4 separate regions of the Homo sapiens genome follow, and regions 1, 2 and 3 are each linked to region 4. The links come from fine-mapping of genetic effects on gene expression. A gene starts in region 4. Each other region holds a variant in brackets. All regions are shown on one strand. Distances are between the middles of the regions. Region 1 has its middle 27 kb from the start of LINC02988. Region 2 overlaps VPS45 (vacuolar protein sorting 45 homolog). Region 3 overlaps VPS45 (vacuolar protein sorting 45 homolog). Region 4 holds the start of PLEKHO1 (pleckstrin homology domain containing O1).

The links.
Region 1: its variant is fine-mapped to the expression of PLEKHO1 in whole blood (TOPMed, PIP 0.99).
Region 2: its variant is fine-mapped to the expression of PLEKHO1 in whole blood (TOPMed, PIP above 0.99).
Region 3: its variant is fine-mapped to the expression of PLEKHO1 in whole blood (TOPMed, PIP above 0.99).

Annotation. Positions count from the first base shown.
Region 1 is chr1:150,186,475-150,189,161 of GRCh38, forward strand. No RefSeq gene overlaps it. Among named protein-coding and RNA genes, the nearest start is that of LINC02988, 27 kb to the left of the region's middle. RefSeq lists a cis regulatory region at 344-630. The variant G/C (reference allele first, on the strand shown) is at 970.
Region 2 is chr1:150,088,863-150,091,549 of GRCh38, forward strand. All of the region lies in intron 10 of VPS45 (vacuolar protein sorting 45 homolog), which reads left to right. Among named protein-coding and RNA genes, the nearest start is that of VPS45, 22 kb to the left of the region's middle. The variant T/C (reference allele first, on the strand shown) is at 1,561.
Region 3 is chr1:150,123,561-150,126,247 of GRCh38, forward strand. All of the region lies in intron 14 of VPS45 (vacuolar protein sorting 45 homolog), which reads left to right. Among named protein-coding and RNA genes, the nearest start is that of PLEKHO1, 25 kb to the right of the region's middle. The variant G/A (reference allele first, on the strand shown) is at 1,246.
Region 4 is chr1:150,148,572-150,151,258 of GRCh38, forward strand. It overlaps PLEKHO1 (pleckstrin homology domain containing O1), which reads left to right and starts at 1,345. Exons shown (of 6, transcript NM_016274.6): 1 at 1,345-1,716; 2 at 2,341-2,487. The coding sequence starts at 1,687. RefSeq lists silencers at 973-1,432, 1,573-1,652 and an enhancer at 1,285-1,785.

The DNA of each region.
Region 1 (2,687 bases), 38 kb after region 4:
AAATTGGACTGAACCTTAGGAGAAAACAGAAAATTGTACTACATTCTTGCATAGCTAGCTAATGTAAATAGCTTCAAGCAACAAACTAGATATTATTGATCCGTTTCAAAAGAGCTGAGTCAGGCTGTACACGGTGGCTCATGCCTGTAATCCCAGCACTTTGAGAGGCCGAGGCAGGCGGATCACCTGAGGTCAGGAGTTGGAGACCAGCCTGGCCAATGTGGTGAAACCCCATGTCTACAACAAAAAAATACAAAAATTAGCTGGGCATGGTGGCGCGTGCCTGTAGTCCCAGCTACTGGGGAGGCTGAGGCACAAGAATCGCTTGAACCCGGTAGGTGGAAGTTGCAGTGAGCCAAGCAGAGATTGCACCACTGAACTCCAGCCTGGGCTGGAGGTTTTTTTCATCTCGGGAAAAAAAAAAAAAAAAAAAAGAGCTGAGTCAGATTCTGACTTGTCTAACGGACTCAGTCGTGATGTTTTGCCTGTCTGCTCCAAGTTCCCCTGTTCCAGACACATCTCTCACAGCATTACAATGATCTACATGCCCTAGGAATAGCGACTTTCCATCATCTGCCTCATCAGAGCAAATAGAAGTGTAAGTGGCAATGACGTTAGTGTTTGTGTGTGTGAAAACCTAGTGTGAATTTTCCCTTCTCTGGCAAAAGCTCACAAGCCATCATTATAGAAAAGCAGAAGAAAAAACTGCTTGTTCTGCTTTTCCTGACCTCAGAAGCAGTAGTTGTTAAAACTCTTTAAAAAAAAAAAAATGGGGTCTTGCTATGCTGCCCAGACAGGTCTCCATCTCCTGGGCTCAAGCAGAGCTGGGACTACAGGCACACCACCACACCAAGCAAAACTGTCTTTTGATTTAAAATTACTTAAATACCTCTTTAAGGGTCTCCTATAGTCACTTATCTTCCAGTTACCTAAATCACTAGCTTCTTTTTTTTTTCCTTCAGAGACCCC[G/C]CCCAAAGTCACATCCGTTGCAATTATCGGGCAGGTACTGCCCTCTAGTGTTTATACTTTTATAATAAAAATTTTACACACTACCCTTTTAACTGACCTCAAAGCATGGAAAATCTGTCAAAAACTAAATAATATCCTATTAACCCAAGATTTTTCACCTTCACACTACTGGCATTCTGATCACCCTTTGTTGCGGGGCTGTCTTGTGCACTGTGGGACGTTTTGGCAGCACCCCTGGCATCTTCCCACTTGATGCAGTAGCACTCCCACACACATCCCGGTGTGACAACCAAAAATATCTCCAGACACAGCTAAATGTCCCCAGGGGAACAAAATCACCCCTGCTTGAGATCCACTGTATTAGTCTAAAGGTTGTCCAAAACATTCACATTAGACCTGAAAATTGTAAGGGAAAAGGGCTTCTCTGGGCTAATTCCATTGAATGAGATAAAGAACTTCATTTCTGCATGAAAAACAAGGAGGTAGAGAATTAAGATTTTCAGCTCCCCGCCTCCACGTACCCGCAAAGTCCTGGCCATTGGGACATTTTTTACACCTTTAGCTTTCTGTTCCAGCTTTACCTCTTAGACCTCTTCACTTCCTTTCAAAGTGCATCACAAACAAAGCTTGCCCTTCTAGCCAAATGCAGAGAATGTGGTAGGGAAAAGGAAGAAGGGAGGTCTGAGCATTTGTACTCAAAAAAAGGGCTCTGGCCAGATGTGGTGGCTCGTGCCTGTAATCCCGGCACTTTGGGAGGCTGAGGTGGGCAGGAGTTCAAGACCAGCCTTGGCAACATGGCAAAACCCCATCTCTACTAAAAATACAAAATTAGCCGGGTTCAGTGGCAGGTGCTTGTAGTCCCAGCTATTCTGGAGGCTAAGGCATGAGAATCCCTTGAGCCTAGGGGGCAGGGAGGCTGCAGTGAGCCAAGATTGCCCCACTGCACTCCAGCCTGGGCAACAGAGCAAGACTCTGTCTCAAAAAAAAAAAAAGGAGAGGGGCTCTAGCAAAGCGTTAAGGCTCAGCATTAATAATGCCAGCCAACCAGGAACCTGTATTGATTGTCAGCCTAATATGAAAATTCTTATCAAATATCAAAATAAGTTTCAAATCTGGCTTTTAGAAAGATATTTAGGAGGGTTTATTCCAATCTGCTATGAATGATTATTCTTCATACAAGTGCATTATGCTTATAAACCTTGGTTCTGTGATTTTTTTTTTCCAGACGGAGTCTCACTCTGTCTCCCAGGCTGGAGTGCAGTGGCACGATCTCAGCTCACTGCAACCTCCGTCTCCCGGGTTCAAGCAATTCTCCTGCCTCAGCCTCCCAAGTAGCTGGGATTACAGACGTCCGCCACCACACCCGGCTAATTTTTGTGTTTTTAATAGAGACGGGGTTTCACCATGTTGGCCAGGATGGTCATGATCTCTTGACCTCGTGATCCGCCTGCCTCAGCCTTCCAAAGTGCTGGGATTACAGGTGTGAGCCACCGTGCCTGGCTAGTTCTATGAATTTTAACACTTGCAAATTACTGAGAACTTGATATTTAAAAAATAAAAAAGGAGTTTGGACTGTCACTAACTTCCTCCCCTCATCAAATTTCTCACTGACTTAGTTGATTTCACTGAAGAACTAAACAAAAAATAAGAATAATCGGGCCGGGAGCAGTGGTTCATGCCTGTAATCCCAGCAGTTTGGGAGACTGAGACAGGTGGAT
Region 2 (2,687 bases), 60 kb before region 4:
GTAAACATAGGAGTGCAGATAGCTCTTCAACATACTGATTTCATTTCCTTTGGATATATACCAAGTAGTTAGATTGCTAAATCATATAGTAGTTCTATTTTTAATTTTTTAAGGAATCTTCATACTATTTTCCATAATGGCTGTACTAATTTACATTCCCACCAGTTGTGTGTAAGGGTTCTTATTTCTCCACGTCATCATCAACAACACTTACTATCTCTAATAAGAAACAGCCAAGAGTCAAGATCCAAGTGAAGGTAAATAGAAAAGGGCAGAGACTGATTACTGCAAATAGTCTTTGACTGTCATCATACCAGTTTTGTGAATTTATAGTTACTTGGATTTCTCAGATTTGCTTAAAAGTACAGAGACAGATCAGCCAGAAAAGGTGGTAAGAGAGTGACTGCAAGGGCAGGAAATGAGACATTGTGCCTATAAGAAAAGTAACAACAGAAATCCCAAATGGGATTTCTTTTCTTTTTAAAAAAATTTTTTAAAATTTTTATTTATTTATTTGAGACAGTTTCACTCTGTCGCCCAGGCTGGAGTACTGTGGCACGTAATCTCGGCTCACTGCAACCTCCGCCTCCCAGGTTCAAGCAATTCTCCTGCCTCAGCCTCTTGAGTAGCTGAGACTACAGGCACCCGCCACTACATCCTGCTAATTTTTTGTATTTTTAGTAGAGAGGGAGTTTCACCATGTTGGCCAGGCTGGTCTCGAACTCCTGACCTCAAGTGATCCACCTACCTCGACCTCACAAATTGTTGGGATTACAGGTGTAAGCCATGGCACCCGGCCCCCAACAGGATTTCTTAATGTTTTAAACTTACGCTGTTGATTGAGATACATACATAATTTGTACCTGAAATTTCTTCATATTATAGTAGAAAATAGTGGAACATTTGAACAGATACCCTAAATGGGCTGTATTCCGTGGCTGCTCTAGGGGAAAGATCCCATGAAAGGAAAAAAATAAGAAAAATCTTACGAATTTGGGATCGAAATCTACAGAAGAGAAGTTTCTCCCTTTTTGATCCCTTAAGGATGATGGTAGTGAAATAGTAACCCAAAAAATCAACAATAGAAATCTCTTTCAGAGAACTCTGTACTTGAAAGCTACATGGGAGGTTCCCCATTATCATCATAGTCCCTAGTCAGTGTGAACAGAAGAGCTCTTAGACATTGGACATGGTTGTTGTCAGGTACAAAAGAGATAATGTACGTGAAAGCATTTTGTAAGTTGTAAAGTAATCATATAGTTGATAGTTATGTCCTCAGAATTCAGTGCCCTTCAAGGCTCTTGCCAGCCTTTCAAACCAAGCCATTTCTTCCTCTGATTTCCATATTTATTTTGATAGTGCCACTGCTTTTGGTCTCTCACACTGGTTCCAATACTTACTGATTCTTCAGGACCTTTGGCAAGTGTCACCTCTGTGAAGTCTTTCCTAATTTCTCAACAACCCAATATACTTTCTCTTCCCCTTTCTCTCCCCTTCCTCTTTTGCACTGATTTTCAGCTTTTGCTTTTTGTTTTGTTTTTTGCATACATGTTTCTGTTA[T/C]AACACCACATATTTGTTCCTGAAAAACCTCATATTCTATAAAAACATGCACTAAAAAAAGGGTTATGAGAATATAGGGTTATAAGCAGACCACTTAAAATCTACATGACTATAGAAAGAAAGAAAACATTCATATAATTTTTAAATCAGAGCCCTAATAAAAATAGTAACAATTATAATAAAAATACTAGCATGGTTAAATCTCCACCGGCATTTGCACCTAGAAATAGAGCCAGTCCATCCTCTGCAGCCTTATTCCTGGGGCTCATGTTTTCTTCAAATTATAAGGTCTTGAAAATACTCACTTCTCATAAAGACTACTTTGTCAAAATTAAAAATACCATATGGAGACAGCTTTCTTCATCAATCAGTGTTTGATTGTTATTTTGTTTTGTTTTGCTTTTTTACACAGTGCAATATATTTGCATCCTTTTTATTTGCACTTGCCCTTTCCCCATATAGCATAACACAGTGGAAAGTGCAACAGTTCTTGAAGCTACAAAACCAGATACTTCTTGCAGAACACACTTCTGTAGGATTATCATCTTTTTTTCTTAAGGTATTGGTAAGGCTTCCCCTTTAATCATAAGAAAGCCTATCCATTCTGGAAAAATTACATGTGAACCAATATGCCTTCTGTGTTAAACTGACACCATTTCCATATTTATCCATCTCACAGAACTAAAGTACATTAAAGAAACATGTATATAGCAGAATAAATTATATTACTTTGATCATCCTTCACCCCATTGACTGTGAACTCACTGGGGACAGGAATTGTCTTTAACTTATCTGTGTGCCTGCAACAGTGCATGACATACTGCCTTATGGGGACTCAAAAGTATTTGTTGACTTGAATTAAATTATTTGTTCTGCTGCATAATAAATATAAATCTATACTATATGGAAGGTCCTGAATATGAGGATTAAAAAATGTAAACATGGCTTCTCCTGGCCCCCTTTCCTATCGGTACCTGCCTCTTAAAATCATTAAGTACTAAATCTAGAGATTACATGCTATTACATACTCATCTCTGTCAACCATGTTGAGACATGTTCTGATGCTTCTTAGAGATCAAGCCCAGTCTGTGTAAAATTCTACCAACTTGTCTCCATTTCACTGGTCA
Region 3 (2,687 bases), 25 kb before region 4:
ATGATCCTACCTTGCAAATAAACGAGCATCTTGGTTTGGATTTTGAGCTGGCCTGCCTTAGCACTTCACAGGTCGATCAATATTAAAGAGTTCTAGTCCCTGCCAGCAGTAATTGACACCTTTAAGTTAGCTGTGTGAGCTGAGAGGTCAAGAACCCAATCCATATAGATGGAATTGTTATCGTAATAGGCAAAAATACCTGTCTTCATGGGATTCAGGATAGAAGTAGAGGGAAAAAGGGTGGCTAGGTGAATTCATTAGCCAATAGCGCTGCCATTGCTTGAACACTATGTGAACTTTATTTAGTCTCCAGTTCTTCTTAAAACTTTTGACAAATAGAAAGACATATCCTGCTAGAAGATGGCATGAGAGCAACAATTCTCTCGCTGCCAGATTCCCTTTCAAGCCAATAATAATTACTGTACATAGTATATTCTTTGTCATAGTACTAGATCCAACTAAGCCCTCATTAGCTATAAACCTAAAGAATAATTAATGATCCCATTTTCAATTATTTTCCCCATAAGTAGCAAAGACAGATAGTGCTGGCAAACAGGTAAAGGAAAGTAGGCATTCCCCTTGACCAAGTAATTCATGCTCATTGTTAAAAGGAAATGAGGCTGAACACGGTGGCTTACTCCTGTAATCCCAGCACTTTGGGAGGCCGAGGCGGGTGGATCACGAGGTCTGGAGTTCAAGACCAGCCTGGCCAACGTAGTGAAACCCCATCGCTACTAAAAATACAAAAATCAGTCAGACGTGGTGGCGTGCACATGTAGTCCCAGCTACTCAGGAGGCTAAGGCAGAAGAATTGCTTGAATCTGGGAGGCAGAGGTTACAGTAAGCCGAGATCGCGCCACTGCACTCCAGCCTGGGTGAGAGACCAAGACTCCGTCTTGGAAAAAAAAAATGAATTATAAAAGTAAAAATCATTCATAATACCACAGCTCAGAGCTAATCACTGTTAATATGTTGGCTTTTTTTCTTTTTTCTTTTTTTTTTTTTGAGACAGAGTCTCGCCCTGTCACCCAGGCTGGAGTGCAGTGGCACAATCCCGCCTCACTCCAACCCCCCTACCTCCCGGATTTAAGTAATTCTCATGCCTCAGCCTCCCAAGTAGCTGGGACTACAAGCCTGCAGCATCACACCTGGCTAATTTTTTTTTTTTTTGTATTTTTAGTAGAGATGGGGTTTCACCATGTTGGCCAGGCTGGTTTTGAACTCCTGACCTCAAGTAATCCGCCT[G/A]CCTTGTCCTCCCAAAGTGCTGGGATTATAGGCATAAGCCACTGTGCCCAGCCCCTTCTAATATTTTTTTAACCTAAATGTTTTAGAATTTTGTTTATGTTTTGTTTTTAACATAAGATCTATAGAGTTTTTTTCTTTAATCATTTGAGAACATTTTCCCATGTTACTAAAAAGTCTTTAAAACAATCTTAATGGCTATATAATTTTATTTTTAAGGATGGGTCTTTATTTAACTATTACCATTGGACATTTAGGTTGTTTACATTTTTTTCACCAGCATATTCAGCTGCAAGTTTACTTTTATTTTTTATTTATTTATTTTTTTGCTTTTTTAAATTTTTAATTGACATGTAATAATTTTACACATTTATTAGGTACAGAGTAATATTTTGATACATGTATACAATGTATACTGATCAAATCAGGATATTTAGCATAACAGCACATCAAACATTTATCATTTCTTTGTATTGGGAACATTCAAAATCTTCTTTTTTCTGTATTGGATATGTATTTTTTATTTTTTTTACTTTTTTTATTTATTTTTTAATATATATATATTTTTATTATACTTTAAGTTCTAGGGTACATGTGCACAATGTGCAGGTTTGTTACATATGTATACATGTGCCATGTTGGTGTGCTGCACCCATTAACTCATCATTTAAAAAATGACGAGTTCATGTCCTTTGTAGGGACATGGATGAAACTGGAAACCATCATTCTGAGCAAACTATCGCAAGGACAAAAAACCAAACACCACATGTTCTCACTCATAGGTGGGAATTGAACAATGAGAACACTTGGACACAGGAAGGGGAACATCACACACTGGGGGGAGGGGGGAGGGATAGCATTAGGAGATATATTTTTTATTTTTTTTATATTTTTTAATCATTTTTGAGATGGAGTCTCCTCTGTTGCCCAGGCTAGAGTGCAGTGATGTGATCTCAGCTCACTGTAACCTCCACCACCCAGGTTCAAGGAATTCTCTGCCTCAGCCTCCCGAGTAGCTGGGATTATAGGCGCCTGCCACCACTCCCAGCTAATTTTTGTATTTTTAGTAGAGACGGGCTTTCACCATCTTGGCCAGACTGGTCTTGAACTCCTGACCTTGTGATCCACCCGTCTCAGACTCCCAAAGTGGTGGGATTATAGATATGAGCCACTGCCCCTGGCCAAGCTTACATTTTTAATATAAATAATGCTTCAATAAACATCTTACGTACTGATAAAACTTGGTCCCCATCTCGGTGGGGACAAAGGTTTAAGATAAACGTATAGTGAGGCAGTCTGAAATATTGCCAGTAGAAGGATAAATTAGTATAACTTTCCTAGAAAGCAATTTAGCATTATATATTCTAAGGTATGGGATTAATTTCATGGCTTTTGTTGTTGGGTTTTTGTTTTGTTTTGTTTTTTTGAGACAGAGCCTCACTCTG
Region 4 (2,687 bases):
ACTTTTATCTTGAGACATCTCTGGAAAAATGATTTTTCCTTTTCCCTGCTCCTCAGTGCCAGGGATTTTTATTCATTTTGTGGTTACTGCATGCTTGCCATATGCCAGGCAATGTGTTTATTAGCTTATTATGATTTCAAAATTAGCCCTGGAAGACAACACATATCTTCAAAGGACTCTCAGAGGTCATCTCATATCTTCCCCTAGCTTTCCTTGTTGATAAAAATGGCAGTTCATCCCTCACCACTTAATACGTGGAGGGACGCGGGCCTAAAGAAATTCAGTGACTTGACCAAAGCCCAGAGTGGTGATGAAACCAGTACCCAAGCGCGGGGTTTCTCACTCCCCTTTTCCATCACACGTATATATATTAAAAAGACATGAAGTTACTAAGATGTGTCCTGGAGGCTCTGAGGCAGATCTGCTGTAGGAGGGATCAGCAGAGGCTTCTCTAGTCAGGGCATTCTCTGGGCGTTCAGCCCTTCCCTCCACTGGGCTCCAGCGCTGTAGAGAGGGTGGGGTTTTTACCTATCAGTATAGCGGGAAAAGATACCCAGGTGGCAGGAAGTTTAAGCCTCACCTGGAACTTATATTGAAAGCCACTTGGTAGAAAGGATAATGGTTTGGAGACAGAGTTCTATTCCTGCCAGCATTGACACTGTGTCTGAAAAGCCAGCATCGACACTGTGTCTGCAAATCCCTCAGCTATTCTGAGTCTCCGTTTTCTCCCTGTGAGATGGAGATCATAAAATCCGCCTCATCCTTAGGATTATTCTCCTGAAGCTACAATAAGGCCTGAGGCATTGTACGCTGGAAGAAACGTGTATTAATAGCAACTTCTGTCCCACCCCATCCCCCAACACGTCGATCCCCTCCGGAGCATAAAACTTTCCCCCAGCATCTGACCTGCCCAGGCCACCCTAGCACCTAGGAGCGTGAATTCCTGATGCGGGTTGTGGGTGGCGCGCCCTCCCGGTTCCCGCTCTCGTTTTTGTTTTTGGTCGGGTAAGGCGATGCTGTAGAGGCTGGCGATCTCCAGTCTTCACGAATCCGCACGTCTCTCCATTATCCACCGCGCCCGCCCACTGGGCCCCGGGGCGGCCGGCGGCCGGGTCTCTCGGGCTCCGCGTGTCGCCCGAGCCGCCGCCGGAGCGAGGGTCCCTGCCCCCTGGGGAGCGGTCTCCAGCCGCTTCGAAGCCGCCTTCTTCCCCCTCCGTGAGTCAGAAACAAAGGCGGGGGGGCGGGGGGAGCGCCCGAGCTGCGGCTCCGCGATTCGCCCTTTATTCTGAACTCGCAACGTCAGCGGCCCGCGGATGGAGCTGCGGGGTGCGGACTGGGCCGCCCACAGCGCACCGGGCCGGGGGAGCGGCCGCGCTGGGCCGGGCGGGCGGGTGGCGGGGGTGCGCTCGGGGACCCGGGCCGCGTGGGCGCCGGGATGGAGGGCGCCAAGGGGCGGGGAGCGGGCGTGCGTGTGTGTGCGAGTGCGAATGCGAGGGAGGCCGGCCTTGAGTGAAACCGGAGCTACAAAGAAGGGGAGAGTCCGGGAGCGGGAGGGCGCGAGGGAGGAGCGGCGGCGCCGGGGCAGCTCCGACGCCCTCCCGCGGGGAAGGAGCCCCCGCGGTGCCGCCGAGGCCCCGACGCGGGGCCGCCCCTCGGCTCGCCGCCCCGCGCCCGCGCCCGCTGGGAATGATGAAGAAGAACAATTCCGCCAAGCGGGTGAGTGCGCTTGCCCGCCCTGCGGCCGCCGCCGCCTCCGCGCTCTGACGACCCCCGCTCCGTCGGCGCCGCGGCGGCCTGGGAGACCCACGGCCCGGCCGCGCCCCCGCCCCGGCGGCCCGGTCCCCTCGGCCTCGGCCCCGCCAGGCGCCCGCGGGGGCTTTTGTTTGTTTACTCGCCTCGGGGGGCTTCAACTTGGCTGAGTTTCCCCACGACCCGCACCTCCCCCGCCCCCGGGCGCCGGGCGAGCGTTTGCCTCGCGCTCCGCCGTGGCGAGGAGACAATGGGAGAGAAAACCAGAGAAACGCCGTTAGTCCCCGCGCGGCGAGGACGGGGCGGCGGGGGCGCAGGGCCTGGAGGGAACCTGGGAGCCTCTCCGCGCCCGGCCGGCGCCCCTGCCACTTGCAGCCCCGGTTGTTTATTCGGGAGCGGGGGAGGGGAGCGGGGGGAGTTCCTCGGAGTGAAAACCTTTCCGAAGTGGGAGCGAACCTGGGGCGGCCCCCCGCCCCCCGGCCGCAGCCTTCGGAGGAGACTGGGCCGCCGAGGCGGTCGTGAGAGACGGACGGAGAGGAAGCGCCGGCTGGAATCTCCTAACCGCCCGCTTCTCATCTTGTCCTGGGGCAGGGACCTCAGGATGGAAACCAGCAGCCTGCACCGCCCGAGAAGGTCGGCTGGGTCCGGAAATTCTGCGGGAAAGGGATTTTCAGGGAGATTTGGAAAAACCGCTATGTGGTGCTGAAAGGGGACCAGCTCTACATCTCTGAGAAGGAGGTGGGTGCCTCTTGCCTCTAACTCTCCGTTTTCTCATAGCCCCCACTTTGTCACTCCCCAAGGGCTCGCCTAGCTTACTCCACCCCCGTTTTGTTCCAAAGGCAAGTTCAGTGGTCTCCTCTCTACCCCCATCTCATCTGCAGAGAAAGGCCACCCTTTAATGAGAAGACCAGAGTGAGAATTAGAAGTTGAGTTGGCCG